3 linked regions of the Homo sapiens genome follow. The protein of the gene in region 2 purifies or fractionates together with the protein of the main gene of each other region. This does not show direct contact. Each region holds a gene or a part of one and is shown on either strand. Other genes may lie near its edges.

Region 1 (5,454 bases), on a different chromosome or scaffold from region 2:
CTATTCTCCTTTTTCATTCATAATTAGGTAATAAAGTCATGTTTCTTGAACACAACACAGGTATAACATTTTCTCTCACAACCATATATTTTAAGGGATTCCTCTCAACTCACACAATTTCAAAAACTTGGTCTCTGTTCCACCTACTTCAAATCACCACAAACATACACATAGAACAAGACACTAATGCATCTTTCTGTCTGGCCTTCTCTTAACCCCACGTCTGGGCCGTAGTGGCGAGTATCATAGGGCAGGAGCACACGTAAGTGTGAGTGGGTACAAAAAGGGAACAGGCAAAATCAGGATGTTATGCAAGAATTTTAAAAGCCAATTATTTTGCAAATCTAAGAGTAGCTGGGCAAAGGTAAGAATGGTTTTAGACTGGACATTTACCAAGTAAACATAATGTAGGTATCCAGGGGGAAAGTGGAAAATCTCCTGATTTTTCCATAACTCCTAAGATGACCCATAGGTGTGTCTTGGAGAAAAACTACTAGGAAATATCTACTTTTACTTCCATCTTTCCATTTTTGAGAATGTTTGGCACTAATTAAGAATAGTTTTTCCTAAAATAGCTCTGTACTCCAGGAAAAGAGTTACCTCTGTGCTCCAAATTATAATAAACTATTTTGAATCACTGTAACATAGAGCTAAAGCCTCAATGTTCTTTGATTGTTCATCTCCACCATTCTCTATTCACTTTTTATTCCCTTTACGCATTTTTAGAATTTTCCACATGCTCTCAGTTCTGCTGTTTACTCTGTTGGGAGTGTGAGCATGTGGCTATCTTCAAATACTACCAGATTTAGCTTCCTTAATATGTCCCTTGGATGTTCAAAAGTCTGTTAAGTGCTCTTTATTGCCTACTGTAAGAGGCAATAAAGAAATCCAAACTCAGAAGCCCAACCTAAAACAATATACATAGGACCTCTAAGACCTACTCCAGAGATCTTCCTTACAGCAAAATTTAGGCAAAAACCCCTATCCCCGAAGACTGGTCAGGAAATAACATGAACTAGGGTCAAGTAGTGTCTCAGGGCTTTTCTGAGACCCTACTCAAGGACGGACACGCTGCAGCCAACATAGCTAGATTTATTTTCCCCAAAGAACTGTCTGTTTAGAAATGTGGGGAGAGCTATAAGGCTCCATCCTATCTTAAAACAAACCAACAGTTTAAAATATTTTACACTTTAAAACTAGCGACTGATACATTCTGGGAAATTAAACAGCATAAGGATTTCTCTGTTCTAAAATATATAAATGCAGACCGAAAAGAAGCATGAGGAGACTTTCCAGGGTGTTGACAACATTTCATATTCTGGGTGCTGGTTACATAGGTGTGTGAGTTTGGTAAGATTTACTGAGCTTCACACTTAACGCTCTATGTACTTTTCTGTATGTATGCTACACTTCAAAACACATTTTATAATGTGCTTTTACTATTAGCTGAAAGGTGGGGGAATATTAGAAGGGTACTCAGCTTTAGAAATACAAAAAATAAAATCTTTACAATAAACTTTCAAATTGTCAAGATATTTTATTAAGTTTCAAACATGATTTTTGTTAGACCTCGGCTAAGTAGGGGGAAAAGGAGACTCTTTTAATTGAATCATCTTACTTGAGCTCTTCTCTTTCCTTCTGACAATTTCCAAGGAAGTTTCCAAACTGGCATGAATGAATATGCTCATGGATCTGAAGAAGAAATGCTTCACTGAATTCAAAGGCTTGTGGAAACTGTTCGGTCAAATGCCACACACATTCCAAGAACTGAGTAAACACTGGTGAGACTTCCTTTGGGTCACCATCCAACTGGCCACACCTAACCCCACAGAAAGTATAAGCTTTTAAAAACACCTCTGAAAGGTCCATTGTTCAGGTATTGTTAATCTTAAACATACAAAAATATTCCTAAAGCACTGTTACATTAGCATGCAAAACTAGAATTTTTATTGAAACCATTTATGAGTTTTTAAACCACAGCTTTAAAGGATCTGTTACCATCTCTAAATAAAATGCAGCCCAAAAGGAAGGTAATAAATAGTCATGAAAATTAACAAGCGTACTAGAATTGAAAGAAATTACAGAAAAAAATTAAATGTCTTTACGTAAAATACAGTAAAAACCATGACACTCTTACCTCCCATCACGCATGTGAGTTCATAAGGAACAGAAACATTTTGGCATTCTAAACTTGGTTTACTAATTTTATAAAATATATGACTGTGTAACTGTGACTCACCTCTCTGAAAATTTATGTCCAAAAGAGATCCAATCCTTTTCTATTAAAACCTTAATGAGAAAAAGTAAAATTCACTTTCTGACTACTTTCAATTATTTTGTTTAGGCTGGATTAAATCTTATTAGTTTAAAAACAGTATTTACTGTACACTTTTAACTTATAAACAAAACAGCACAAAAAACCACAGGCAAAAGAATGCCAAAACCTTGATTCGAGGTGGGGTTAAAGAAGAATAAAAATGCATAAAAAGAAATAGAGTAGTTTCGTGACTTAAATTATTTCCGTTGAATTTATTACATTTTAAGTGAAAAGTACATGTTATAAAGCAGTATTACATTTAAGTTTTTGTATGTATGAAGATGATATATCATAGGAAAAAGGCTAGAAAAATGTAAACCAAAACTGCTAACAAAGGATAACTCTAGGTGGTAGACTGAGGTGGATATTTTAAAACTTTTGGCTTACTTGTACATTTTTTATATTATTTATATACTACTTTTTTTAAGAAAAAAAAACTAATGATAAAAAGACCAATTATTTTAATCAAATCATCTTACTTGAGTTCATGTTCAGATCCAAGTGTTAACATCTATCCTCTTGAATGGACTGACTTTATGTTTTCCTTGCCACAGCTTCTCTACTTACCCACTCCACTGTAAAAACAGATTTCTAACTTTTTCAGTCTAATCTAAACACATATTTGTAGTATTTAGTACACTTTATCACTTAACTATACAGTCACCAAGCACATTATTTTCATAGTGTCAAAACTGCTGGTTTTAGCTTCTCTGATTTTGTCTCAAGCCTCTGCTTTCCGCAGAAGGCTATACACTGATGTGGCTGAGGATGTAGTCGCTGGAGCTCAGGCACAGGCTCCAATCCCAGCTTCACCACTTTGTGTGACCTTGTGGCTGGAGCCACAGATTTTATTCTGGTCTCTCTGCCATTCTTCTACAAAACCATGTTTAAAGCATAACTCAATATCTTTCTCACTAAATGTATTCTTTGGCTTATCTCAGTGAAGAGCCAGAGAGCAGCACCATCCATCCTGGCACCTAATTCAGAAACTTGGAAATCATCCCAGAGGAAGACTCCTCTCTTCTATCCCACATCCAATCCATGATCAATTCTTCCTGACTCTACTTTCTTTTTTTTTTGAGACAGGGTCTCACTCTGTTGCCCAGGCTGGAGTGCAGTGGCGCAATCTTGGCTCACTGCAACCTCCGCCTCCTGGGTTCAAGTAATTCTTCTGCCTCAGCCTCCTGAGTAGCTGGGATTATAGGTACACATCACCATGCCCGGCTAATTTTTGTATTTTTAGCAGAGACAGGGTTTCACCATATTGGCCAGGCTGGTCTCGAATTCCTGACCTCATGATCCACCCGCCTTGGCCTCCCAAAGTGCTGGGATTACAGGCGTGAGCCACTGCGCCCAGCCACTGACTCTACTCTCTAAACATCCCTGGAACCCATCACCTCCCCCTTCACTTGTGTGTTACTATTTTAGTTTGGTAAAATTAAAAACTTTTGTCTCATAAGTTATCATAATAGTGTCTACACTCGCCTCCTAGCCTCCATTCCCACTCCCTTTGGCCTTCAAGATACCAAGCCACCTTTTTAAAAAGCACATCTAATCAAGTTACTGTTTGCTTGTTTAAAACTCTTTAATAGCTCCCATTATCCAAAGAGGGGAAAGCCCCATTCCAGCCTTCTCTTTCTCAGGCCCTGACCCCACTCTATTCCTCTGCCTCCAAGCCCCCTATTCTAATACTCACTCTGAACTCCATCCATCACACATTACCTGCAGTCACCCAAAGAGGTTATGCTTTGATTTACACTGTTCCTATTGCCTGGGAAGCTCTCACATCATCCCCATTTATTACATGATTTCATTTGGATGTCTAACAAATAATTAAAGCCAAACATGGCAAAGAAAATATTCCTTATCGTACACTCTCAAGGTAAGCTGAGCATTATTTTCTTATTAGCAGCACTCCCGCTTGGCCTGTCCCAGAGTCGGTATGTTAGCAGCAAAAAATAGCGGTGCTGAAAAGGGACTGGTGATTTTAAATCTTCCTTTGCTTTAAGATGGCACTGTATTTAATAATTCAAGACTAATGAAAATTTTCTAACATCTCTTCATTTAATTTACCATGAGTTAAGATGTAAATTTTGAAAACATAAGTTAATCTGCTCACACGTTTAAAAGCAAGCAAATAAAAATCTGATCATACCTTTAAAAGCAAAGAAACAAAAAAAAGGAACTAGGTCTTTATCTTCACAAAGGAGAAAATCTATTCAACTAGAAATTTTATCTTCAGATATAAAACATGCCTAATATGTTATTACACTTACTAATGCAGGTGTTTTAAATAGAAGGTTTCCTTCAGAATTTAATTTTAAGTACTCTTATTTGTGCATTGTTTTATTACATTATTTACATTTGTTAGATAAAAATGAGGGAGAAAATACTGAATATTTCCATTGCAACATTTTAGGAAAAAAAATTATTTAAATCTAAAGCTTATTGTCAGTGTTAGCACAAATGGAAATAAGTCTAATTCAAGGTTTTTCAACCTCGACAGTACTGACATTACAGGCCAGATCAGTCTTTGCTGTGAGGCTGACCCCCCAGCAAAAATTTTGTGCATTATAAAATGTTTAGTTAGCAATATCCCTGGCCACTCCCACGGATGCCAGTCTCATCATTTCCTTTAGTGCAAAACTGTCTCCAACATTGCCAAATGTCCTCTGGAGGAACATAAAATTACTCCTACTTAAGAACCATTGGTCTAACCAAATAAATCCTTACCATGAATCCTTTGATTGTCCTGTAGTAGGAATCCAATAAAAGAGAACCCAGGGAACAAACCTGGGAAGTCCTATCCCAACCATCGGAACAATGCACCAACACACTTGCATTTTCAACTGTTATTGCCTGAAAAGAAAGATCACATACATTCTAGCGTACTTTAAGGTAAACCAATAAATTCTACTTGAAAATCATACTAGCAGGTATTGTGTTACAAGGAAGTGCTATGCCTGCAATGATAATGTCACAGCATAATTTCCAAAATACACAACAAAATATGGTAACAACAAAAACACAAGCAAACAAACAAAAAAAAAACAAAGAAAAAATGCCACTTCAAAGTATTTAGGAGCATCTTTTTAAGTTTCTACATTAAGTGCTACATGATATTTTTAAGGCTGAAA
Region 2 (5,454 bases):
TCCAAGGTCATAAATAACAAAAAGATGTGGGCCAGACATGGACCAGAGATGGAGATGGAGCCCCTCAGGCCCCTCCCAGGCGGCCCTGGGCTGCATGGCCTTCACAGTTCAGGGTGCGGGCTAGGCCTGGGTGTGGGAGAAGTGTGTCAGCATAGACATCCTTATCGTCCCACCACAGGAGCCCCACTCCCCAAGGGCCTGCTAACATGCCTCCAAATTGCGAGTGGGCTCCGGATCAGGATTTGTTCAAATCTCAAGTTAACGAAGGCCTTGGGGCTGGCAGAGCCAAGGGCCCTTCCCACTACCCCCATCCCTTGGGGCGAGGGCATCTGCCTCTGGGCTGCGGCCTTCAGCTCAGTCCAGTGGCCAGGGGGAGCCCAAGCCCTCAGGATACACCTGCCCTGCTTCCAGGAACAATCAGGCCAGACAGAGCCCGCTGACTCGTGAGCAGCCCAGAGCTGCACTGGTCCCTGGACTGAGACTCATGGGGCACACCCCAGCGAGCATCTCAGTGAGTGCTGCCTCAGAAGAGGGGAGATCAGGGTGAGGCAGGGGACGCTCCCGAGAGGCTGCTGGCCCAGGCCTGATGTGGAGTCCAGATGGAAACAGACCGCAGGAATGGGCACTGTCAGCAAAGCCAGGCAACTGAGCTGGGAGGCTCCAGGCAGCGGCTGCCCCACACGCCAACCCCGCGGCACCCTGTGGCCCAGGAGGCTCCGGAGTTGTCTGTCCACCGATCATACTCTGTCCCCACCTCCAACCCCCGAATACAGGGACATCTTCCTTCCTGCTGTATCTCTAGGCCCAAACCAACATCTGGCTGTCAGCAAATCCCCACTGGGCAAATGGAAGGGTGAACACTCGAAGGACAAGAGCTCTTTCAAAGACAAGTACTGGACGACTTCAGGGCACTGAGTCTCTCCTTCTCCAGCTAATAATTTATCCACTAGAGCTGCAGAGTAAAAGTAATTATAAAACAATTTCTATTTTTAAAATCAACGCTGAAATGAATCAGACGTAAGCCTCCCTGTGCTGTATTATCGTGGCACCTAACAGCAGCACTTGGCAGGGACAAGAACGTTCTTCAAAGAGCTGGGGCACACGGACGGACGCTGGCAGAGCGGTAGGTTATTTTGCTTTAACATTTCCAAAGAGTTGGTTGAAGGACAGAGAGATCTCATTCAAATGCGTCTGTCCCCTCAAAGGCCATTGACAGAGCAAACACAGGGTTTCTGTAGCTGAGGAGGCCGGGATATGGCCACACGCAAAGCAGCGAGGCGGACAGCTGGGTCAGCTCCAGCAGACAGGAAGTCAGGGGCAACTGCTCCGCTCCATTTAACCTGTATCTCCCCTCACTCTCACCCAGGCCTGCTTGGTCCTGGCCACTCCGTCATTTCAGCGTTTAGGAAAGCTCCCGAGGGGAGCATGAGAGCCCAGGTTCCCCAGGACACTGGTTACAATGTTGCCGCCTGACCCACTGCCACCTCCGCCCCAGGCTTTGTGGGTGACACCCAGTAGTAGGAGGACTGTTCCTGCGTCACCCCTCTGCCAGGCTGGCTCTGGAAGTGACAGGCAGCCAGGTCGTGCAGTTTCATTCCCTGGGCCCTGGTGACATCACTCCACAAACCCGTCTGTCCCAAAAGCCAGGAGCCTGAGTCACCTCCAAGCAGATGAACCTACTGCAGTTTGAGGATCATGTTTATTTTAGCCAGAGAAAAAACAATCTCGCCCCAAATAAACTTTTCTCCAGGCCTCAGTCATTCCCTAGAATGGATGGCCATGAGCCTTTCAGACCTCACCAAGAAGACAGCATCAAAGAAGGGAGACCACTGGCCCCTGAGCATCCACTCATCCAGCCACTTACGACGCGGCCCTGCCTGATGACCCCAGGGTAGGTGGCTGGTGCAGGTCTGAGCAGTTGCTCAGGGAACTCGGCAAGGAGATGACACACTCCCACTTCTCAGGCGAGCCTGGTCTACACATGCGCCCACCCCATGTCTGTCTGCTTCCTCCCGCTCTGCTGGGCCAGCCACAGCGTGTCAGGGCAGATGTGGAAGCAGCGCAAATAATGTCATGAGGACTGGGCAGCACAGAGAGGCTTGGGCAGGAGGACGGCAGCGGGTGGCTGCACAGAGGAGGTGATATTCAAGTTAGCATCGCAGATTACCAAGTTGGGCGGGGAGGGGGCGGGTAAGGGCATTGCCAACAGAGCAGCCAAGGCGTCTCAGGTTAGCCGGCTGGGTATCCCTGTCCCTTGGCCAAGCAGGCCTGGACTCCACTCAGAGGCTTTCCACTTTAAGCTGCTGGGATCCAGTGGCCAGCTGGGTTTCATTCGCGAATGACCGGTGCAGCGCTGGCTGGGAGGCTGGCTTCTGGATCAGGTCAGAGAAGGGGCCTCGTCTGCGCCTGTCCCTATTCAGAGGGTGAGCAGTTCTGCCAGGCAAGGCTCCTGCTGGCTTTGTCTGCACCTCCTGAGGCTGTCGTCCCCCAGAATATCCTCCCAACCCTGGAGAGCCTTCATAATGTGGCACCTCTGGGCTCACTCTTCCAGGGAAGGGCTGTCCCCACCTGCCTGAGTCCCCCCAACCTCTGTGCAGATCCACTTTTCTCCCCAACCGCCCCAGCACACAAGGCCTCCGCTTACAGCTAATCTAAGGGCACCGGGCAGAGCTCAACAGGGAGCTTGTTTCTCTCTTTCAGCCCAGCCTGCTCTTCTGAACACAACATAACAGCCAACACTTACACGGCATTCACTACACACCAGGCACTATGAACACCTGTAAATTTCTTCACAACCACTCCAGGAGGTGTGTAGTATTATTGCCCCCATTTTGTAGATAAGGAAACTGAGGCAGAGTGGTGAAGGGACAGAGCCAGGGGCTGAACCTGGAGCTTGCTCTTGACTGCCCTACCATTCCACACGTGGCCACAGTTGGCATCTCTCCACCTCTTAGAGGGTACAAAGATGACTCGGACCTTCCTGGGGCACACCCCAAAGCTACAGGAACAGGCCAAATGGTAAGACAGCAAGCGGCGCTCAGGAATGTGTCATGGGCATCAAAACACATCAGAGACAGGGAGGGGGAGGTCAAGGATGGGTGGCCCCTTCCCACCCCAACCTGGACCAAGAACAGCCTCTGGAATAGCTCTGCCAGGGAGGCAATATGCAGCCCAGGGGTCGGGAAGTCAGCGGCCTGCCGGGCATCACCACGAGGGCATCACCATGTGGGCTGATGGGGTGGAACCGAGCAGAGGATGTCACGGGGCGAGACAGCAGTGCGCATGCCCAGGAACAACGAGCTCAACGCCCATGCCATGCTGCGGGCAAATCACTCCTATACACGTAAATGTTGCCCTTTTCTAAAAGCCACCAGGTGATTCTAACACTTGCATTGTCCGGCACGGTAGCCGCTGGCCGGTGCGGGCTGTGAGTATTGGAAAGGTGGTGAGTCCAGACTGAGATCAGCTGTGAGTGTCCAGTGCATACCTATTTCAAAGATTTAGTAGGAGAAAAAGAATGTAAATTCTCCTATTCATAATTTTTGTGGCAATTACATGTTGAAAGGGCTAGCTTTTGGATATACTGGGTTAAATAAAATATGCTATTACAGTTAATCGCACCTGTTTCTGTTGACTTTTCTAGTAGTTACTAGACAATCTAAAAGTACACACGTGGCTTGCCTCTGGTTCCTCCTGGACAACACTGCTCTACTGTGTGCCGGGGCTGAGAAGCCCTCAGTTGTCAATAAATGTTAATCTTGACAGGATTTTGGTTTCACGGGGGATGCTAAGCATGTATGTCACCAACCTGGAAAATTGGACCTATGAACTGTTTCCACATATTGCTGCCCTAGACAGTCCCTGCCCCACAGGAACCCCTTACACCTGGGTAGTTTCATGTCTACAGTTAATGCTCACCCGCCAGACTTGGCTCACTCAGCAGTGGCCAGAGGCCTTGCAGTGTAGTAAAGGGTTTCTCTCATCCTAACCTGAGAGGAATCTTCTGGGCTTGATCTCCATCCTGTGGGCCTGCAGTGGAAACTGAGGCCCAGTGAAGCAGAAAGGTTCACAGATCAGGAAAAGGCAGGACTCACCATTAGCATTTCCAGTACTCCTAACTGAGTCCTTCTTCATGATATGCTTCAAAGATGCTTTCTTCTCTAGATGTTAAACTTTTCAGCCGAGGAAGGGAAGGGAGAAAGACGGTTGGGCCAAGTATCTGCTGAGGCCCTTCTATGCCCTAGGTGCTCTTTCATGTTTACATACTGGATGTATTAGTTCCTTATGGCTGCCATAACAAATCACACAAACTCGCAGTTCTGGAGGTCGGAAGTCTAAAACAGGTCTCACAGGACTAAAAGCAAAGTGTCAGAAAGGCTGTGTTTCCTCCTGGAGGCTCTAGGGAAGAATCCATTTCCTCGCCTTTTCCAGGCTGTGGAGGATGCCCATACTCCTTGGCTAGTGGCTCCTCCCCAGCAGCAGGCAGTGAGTCTTTCTCACATGGACTCAGTCCGACCTCCTCTCCTGCCTCCCTTGTCCACATTTAAAGACCTTTGTGATTACACTGAGCCCACCTGGTAGCCCAGGAGAATCGCCCCATCTCAAGGACCATCTCAGCTGATGAAAAACTCTAATTCCACCTGCAACGCCTTACTAAGTCATTAACGTAGTCACAGGTTCTAGCTGCCACACGGTCTCTCTCTTACACCTTACAACAGCCCTATACGATAGCTGGAACGATCTGTATGGTTTTTTTTTCAGACAAGGACATAGATTTACAAGTTAAGCAACTTGCCAGGGACACAGGCTAGAGCCTAGGTCTATCTACCTACTAGTGCCTTTATGATACCACACCCTCTTTTTAAATGGTACAGGCAGTGTTCAGGTTCCAAATACAGGCATGCTGTATTTTGTAGTATTCTGTATTCAGAAAACAGCAACAAGACAATAAAAGTTTGTCACCTCCATTTTGAAAAGGATTTTTTTTTTTTTTAACCAAAGGGACTAAAGTCATAGGGAAGAAAAGCATACACTGGTTTTCTGGACATTCCCCTGGGATTATACACACACACCATGCAACAATCACAGGCACCAGCTCCCAGCAGGCACATGATCGCCTCTCTTCACACTCCTGAGCGCTAACCCCACAGATATTTGCAAACAGGGTGTGTCCTGTCAAAAAAGCTCACAGGAAAGCAATTATCTTCCTCCTGACCCAGGAGCCCAGGGGAGGAAAGCGAGGCTGGCAGGCTAGTGAATATTTAAATTCTAAGCCAGCCTAGTGCTCCTGCCACAGCACACAGTGCTGTGGTCAATGCAAGACAAGCAGCGTATTACAAAGGAAGCCAGGTCCCTGGACTGCATGTGCTATTTTCTGTCCCGAAGGAGACATGGAAGTAACAACCTCAGCTCTCCAGGTCCTTTTCCACCACGGGACCTGGCTGGCGGCTCACC
Region 3 (4,343 bases), on a different chromosome or scaffold from region 2:
CCAGGCTGGAGTGCAGTGGCGCAGTCTTAGCTCACTGCAGCCTCTACCTCCCAGGCTCAAGTGAGCCTCCTGCCTCAGTTCCCAAGTAGCTGGGACTATAGGCGCGTACCACTACACTGGGCTGATTTTTGTATTTTTTGTAGAGATGAGGTTTCGCTATATTGCCCAGGCTGGTCTTGAACTCCTGGGCTCAAGCCATCTGCCTACCTCAGCCTCCCAAAGTGCTGGGTTTACAATCGTGAGCCACTGGGCCTGGCCATGATGACTAATATTTAACAAATTGCTGGGAAACAATTATTACCTCAGGTATATTAGTAAAAATATAGTGATAGGATGTTGATTCGGTTTTCAGTTTGTTTTCTGTTTCTAGGAAGGAAGTATTGAGATTGACATTCCAGTCCCCAAATACTTATCTTCTGTGAGCTCACAAGAAACTCAGGGCGGCCCCTTAGCTCCTATGACTGGAACCATTGAAAAGGTAATCACATGACATCTGTAGAATGATGTTCAGTAAGTTTTAATACGTGGCTTTGTTAAACTTGTCATTTATGTCCTTTTCCCTTTCTAAACCTTGCTCATTGGAAAGCATCCACTTCACAAAAACAAGAGGATCTATTACAGATTCAAATTGTTTATTACAGTCCTCACTGAAAATACCCATTTACCTAATTTATGAAAAAGACTGCTGTTTTTGAAGGCAGGCATTTGCATCAAAGTACAAATAATCTAAATTGTCTTTTTATGATTAAAACTGAGCATTCATTAAGCATTATTCAAAAAAGCTGGTTTTGAATGTTAAATTTAATAGCAGCAAATTTTTCATGAAATAATGACATTTTCTTTTAGTGTACGTAGTTGCATCTGCGTTAATGTAAAAGGCTGGTATTGGTGAAGAACAGTACGGTTTGGTGTTGAATGCAGTATATAATTCACAGTTGCAGTCCATACTGTCTGAGTCAGTTCAGGCTGCTAGAACAGAATACCATAGACTGGGTGGCTTTTAAACAATAGAAATTTATTTCTCACGATTCTAGAGGCTGGGAAATCCATCAAATCACCAGCAGATTAAGTGTCTGGTGAGAGTCTACTTACCGATTTCATAAACAGCCATTTTTTCTCTGTGTCCTCACGTGGTGGAAGGGACAAGGGACCTCTCTTCAGGCCTCTTTCATAAGGGCACTAATCTCTTTCATGAGGCCAGATCCCTCATGACCTAATCACCTGCTAAAGGCCCCACCTCCAAATACCATCATCCTGGAGGTCAGGATTTTAACAAATGAATTCTGGAGGGATATAGACATTTAGACCCTAGCACATACTGATATAACATCAAATGGTGATAGATCAGTATCCGTAGTCTCCTTTTATATACTTGAATACAGTAGAGTCTCCTCAAATACACTTAAATCATAAAAACTCAACTGTATATGCTTGGAACAAAAAAAGAAGAAGAAGAAAATAACTACTTAAATAGTGTGGGTGATTTCAGCCACTATTCTCGTTTGGAAATATTTACCCCAAGTGGGTATGAGCTAGGAGACCTGGATCTGCCTTTAGCTCATTTGATTTCAGTTCCCACAGGCCTCTCATAGTGCAGGCATCTCTGCACAACTCTGTTAGTCTCCCACTTAGTAGCCATGTTAACCAAAACGAAAGTGAGACCATATAGGATCTATGAGTCCATTTATATGTATACAAAAGAAAATAGAAATCTCTTTCTGGGGTTGCTAATAAGTTTGATTCTGTTGCATGAAGATTGTCTTCACATTTACTACACAGGGCTCTGAAGACTTCAAACACACTTACTATACTTAGCCCTAGACAACCCCAAAACAAGAAAACCAGTCAAGACCCTCATCCCTCTTCCCTCTCTGGGGAAGACATTTAAGTATATTAGTCCTTCCCTACTGGCAATGTGTCTTGTTTCTACATTCTTGAAAAAAATGAAAGGATTTCAAAATACATGGAGTATATTCATGTGATTCAAGTAAAACTAAGTGGTTTTGTGGGTGGGGACAGGGGACTAAGCAGTGCTACCCATGGACGACAGTGCCAGCAATGCCAGATTGACCTGTAGGGCTCTCATTTGACTAGTGCATTTGGGCTGTAGGCCTCTGATTTGACCAGTGCATTTGACCTGTAGGCCTCTGATTTGACCAGTACATTTGGGCTGTAGGCCTCTGATTTGACCAGTGCATTTGACCTGTAGGCCTCTGATTTGACCAGTGCATTTGGGCTGTAGGCCTCTGATTTGACCAGTGCATTTGACCTGTAGGCCTCTGATTTGACCAGTACATTTGGGCTGTAGGCCTCTGATTTGACCAGTACATTTGACCTGTAGGCCTCTGATTTGACCAGTGCATTTGGGCTGTAGGCCTCTGATTTGACCAGTGCATTTGACCTGTAGGCCTCTGATTTGACCAGTGCATTTGGGCTGTAGGCCTCTGATTTGACCAGTGCATTTGGGCTGTAGGCCTCTGATTTGACCAGTGCATTTGACCTGTAGGCCTCTTATTTGACGAGTACATTTGGGCTGTAGGCCTCTGATTTGACCAGTGCATTTGGGCTGTAGGCCTCTGATTTGACCAGTGCATTTGACCTGTAGGCCTCTGATTTGACCAGTGCATTTGGGCTGTAGGCCTCTGATTTGACCAGTGCATTTGACCTGTAGGCCTCTGATTTGACCAGTACATTTGGGCTGTAGGCCTCTGATTTGACCAGTACATTTGACCTGTAGGCCTCTGATTTGACCAGTGCATTTGGGCTGTAGGCCTCTGATTTGACCAGTACATTTGGGCTGTAGGCCTCTGATTTGACCAGTACATTTGGGCTGTAGGCCTCTGATTTGACCAGTACATTTGGGCTGTAGGTCTCAGATTTGACCTGTACATTTGGGCTGTAAGCCTCTGATTTGACCAGTGCATTTGACCTGTAGGCCTCTGATTTGACCAGTGCATTTGGGCTGTAGGTCTCAGATTTGACCTGTATATTTGGGCTGTAGGCCTCTGATTTGACCAGTGCATTTGGCAGATGGCACAACCACATGGGCTCTACTTCTGCTCTGTAAGTTTATATACCAAATCTGTGGACCACAAAGGACCTCTGTGTTGTTTTTTTTCTTTTTATTTATGTTTTATTGTTTATATTCATGGTTTGCAACATGATGTTATGAGTATATATAGACAGTAAAATGGTTACTATAATGAAGCAGATGAACATATCTAGGACCTCTGTGTTTTCAAATATTAACCTGTCACACTGAATCTCAAGGTGTTTGTCAAAGCTGGAGACAAAGTGAAAGCGGGAGATTCCCTCATGGTTATGATCGCCATGAAGATGGAGGTAAGGAAATCATGAGTTCATTTGCTATGAGGACTTTGGGAGCAATCATACCTAATGGTTCTTTTGCCTTATTTTGTAAGTTAATACCACCTTAAATATGAAAAGCCATGATTGACGAAGCATTAATTGTAGGAAACAAAACCAAACTATCCTTCTTGTAGAAAAGAGTTTTACTTTAACTTTGTGAAATTGCACCTGTCATTTCTGATTCTGAAATTAATGAAATTATCAATAGCTTGGAATCAGGCGATAATCCAACTGAATGTTAACTGTTGGTATTTTCTAAGATAATCCAACTGAATGTTAACTGTTGGTGTTTCTGGAATGTTAACTGTTGGTATTTTCTAATGTTAACTGTTGGTATTATCTTGGTTCTAAGGCCGAACCAAGGATGCCAGGCATCAGTTTCAAAGTGAAAACCGCAATCAAATTAAATTAGCTGTTTAGGTTTTTAGATGGTTCAAATGGTAGGTCAGTGATTCTTAGCCCTGGCTGAATATTGCAGACAGTCCTCAACTTACAATGGTTCAATTAAGGATTTTTCAGCTTGACAATGGTGCAAAACCATACACGTTGAATATGCTCCTCAGCTTACATTGGATTTATCTGGACCTGACCCCATCGTAAGTCAAGGAGCATGTGTACAGTCACCTGGGGAGATTTGAAAAAATTCTTCCCCAGACCCATTGAATTGCAATCTCCAGGAGTAGAGCCCAAGGATCAATACTTTTGAAAGGCTGGGCGCAGTGGCTCATGCCTGTAATCCCAGCACTTTGGGAGGCAGAGGCAGGCGGATCATTTGAGGTCAGGAGTTCACGACCAGCTTGGCCAACATGGTGAGACCCCATCTCTATTAAAAATACAAAAATTAGCCAGGCATGGTGGTGCATGCCTGTAATCCCAGCTACTCAGGAGGCTGAGGCAGGAGAATTGCTTGAACCTGGGAGGCAGAGGTTGCAGTGAGCCGAGATCTTGCCACTGCACTCCAGCCTGGGTGACAG

What was found.
Region 1: the proteins of HIP1R (region 2) and MTMR6 fractionate together in Homo sapiens (co-fractionation; one large-scale study listed by BioGRID). This does not show direct contact.
Region 3: the proteins of HIP1R (region 2) and MCCC1 fractionate together in Homo sapiens (co-fractionation; one large-scale study listed by BioGRID). This does not show direct contact.

Annotation. Positions count from the first base shown.
Region 1 is NC_000013.11:25,252,146-25,257,599, forward strand, and holds part of MTMR6 (phosphatidylinositol-3,5-bisphosphate 3-phosphatase MTMR6), read right to left. Parts: intron 5,177-5,454; coding exon 5,051-5,176; intron 2,928-5,050; coding exon of another isoform or gene 2,877-2,927; exon of another isoform or gene 2,304-2,876; intron 2,290-2,303; coding exon 2,240-2,289; intron 1,820-2,239; coding exon 1,619-1,819; intron 1-1,618. UniProt on the Homo sapiens protein: Lipid phosphatase that specifically dephosphorylates the D-3 position of phosphatidylinositol 3-phosphate and phosphatidylinositol 3,5-bisphosphate, generating phosphatidylinositol and phosphatidylinositol 5-phosphate.
Region 2 is NC_000012.12:122,837,861-122,843,314, reverse strand, and holds part of HIP1R (huntingtin-interacting protein 1-related protein), read right to left. Parts: intron 1-5,454. UniProt on the Homo sapiens protein: Component of clathrin-coated pits and vesicles, that may link the endocytic machinery to the actin cytoskeleton. Binds 3-phosphoinositides (via ENTH domain).
Region 3 is NC_000003.12:183,016,265-183,020,607, reverse strand, and holds part of MCCC1 (methylcrotonoyl-CoA carboxylase subunit alpha, mitochondrial isoform 1 precursor), read left to right. Parts: intron 1-370; coding exon 371-478; intron 479-3,270; coding exon 3,271-3,342; intron 3,343-4,343.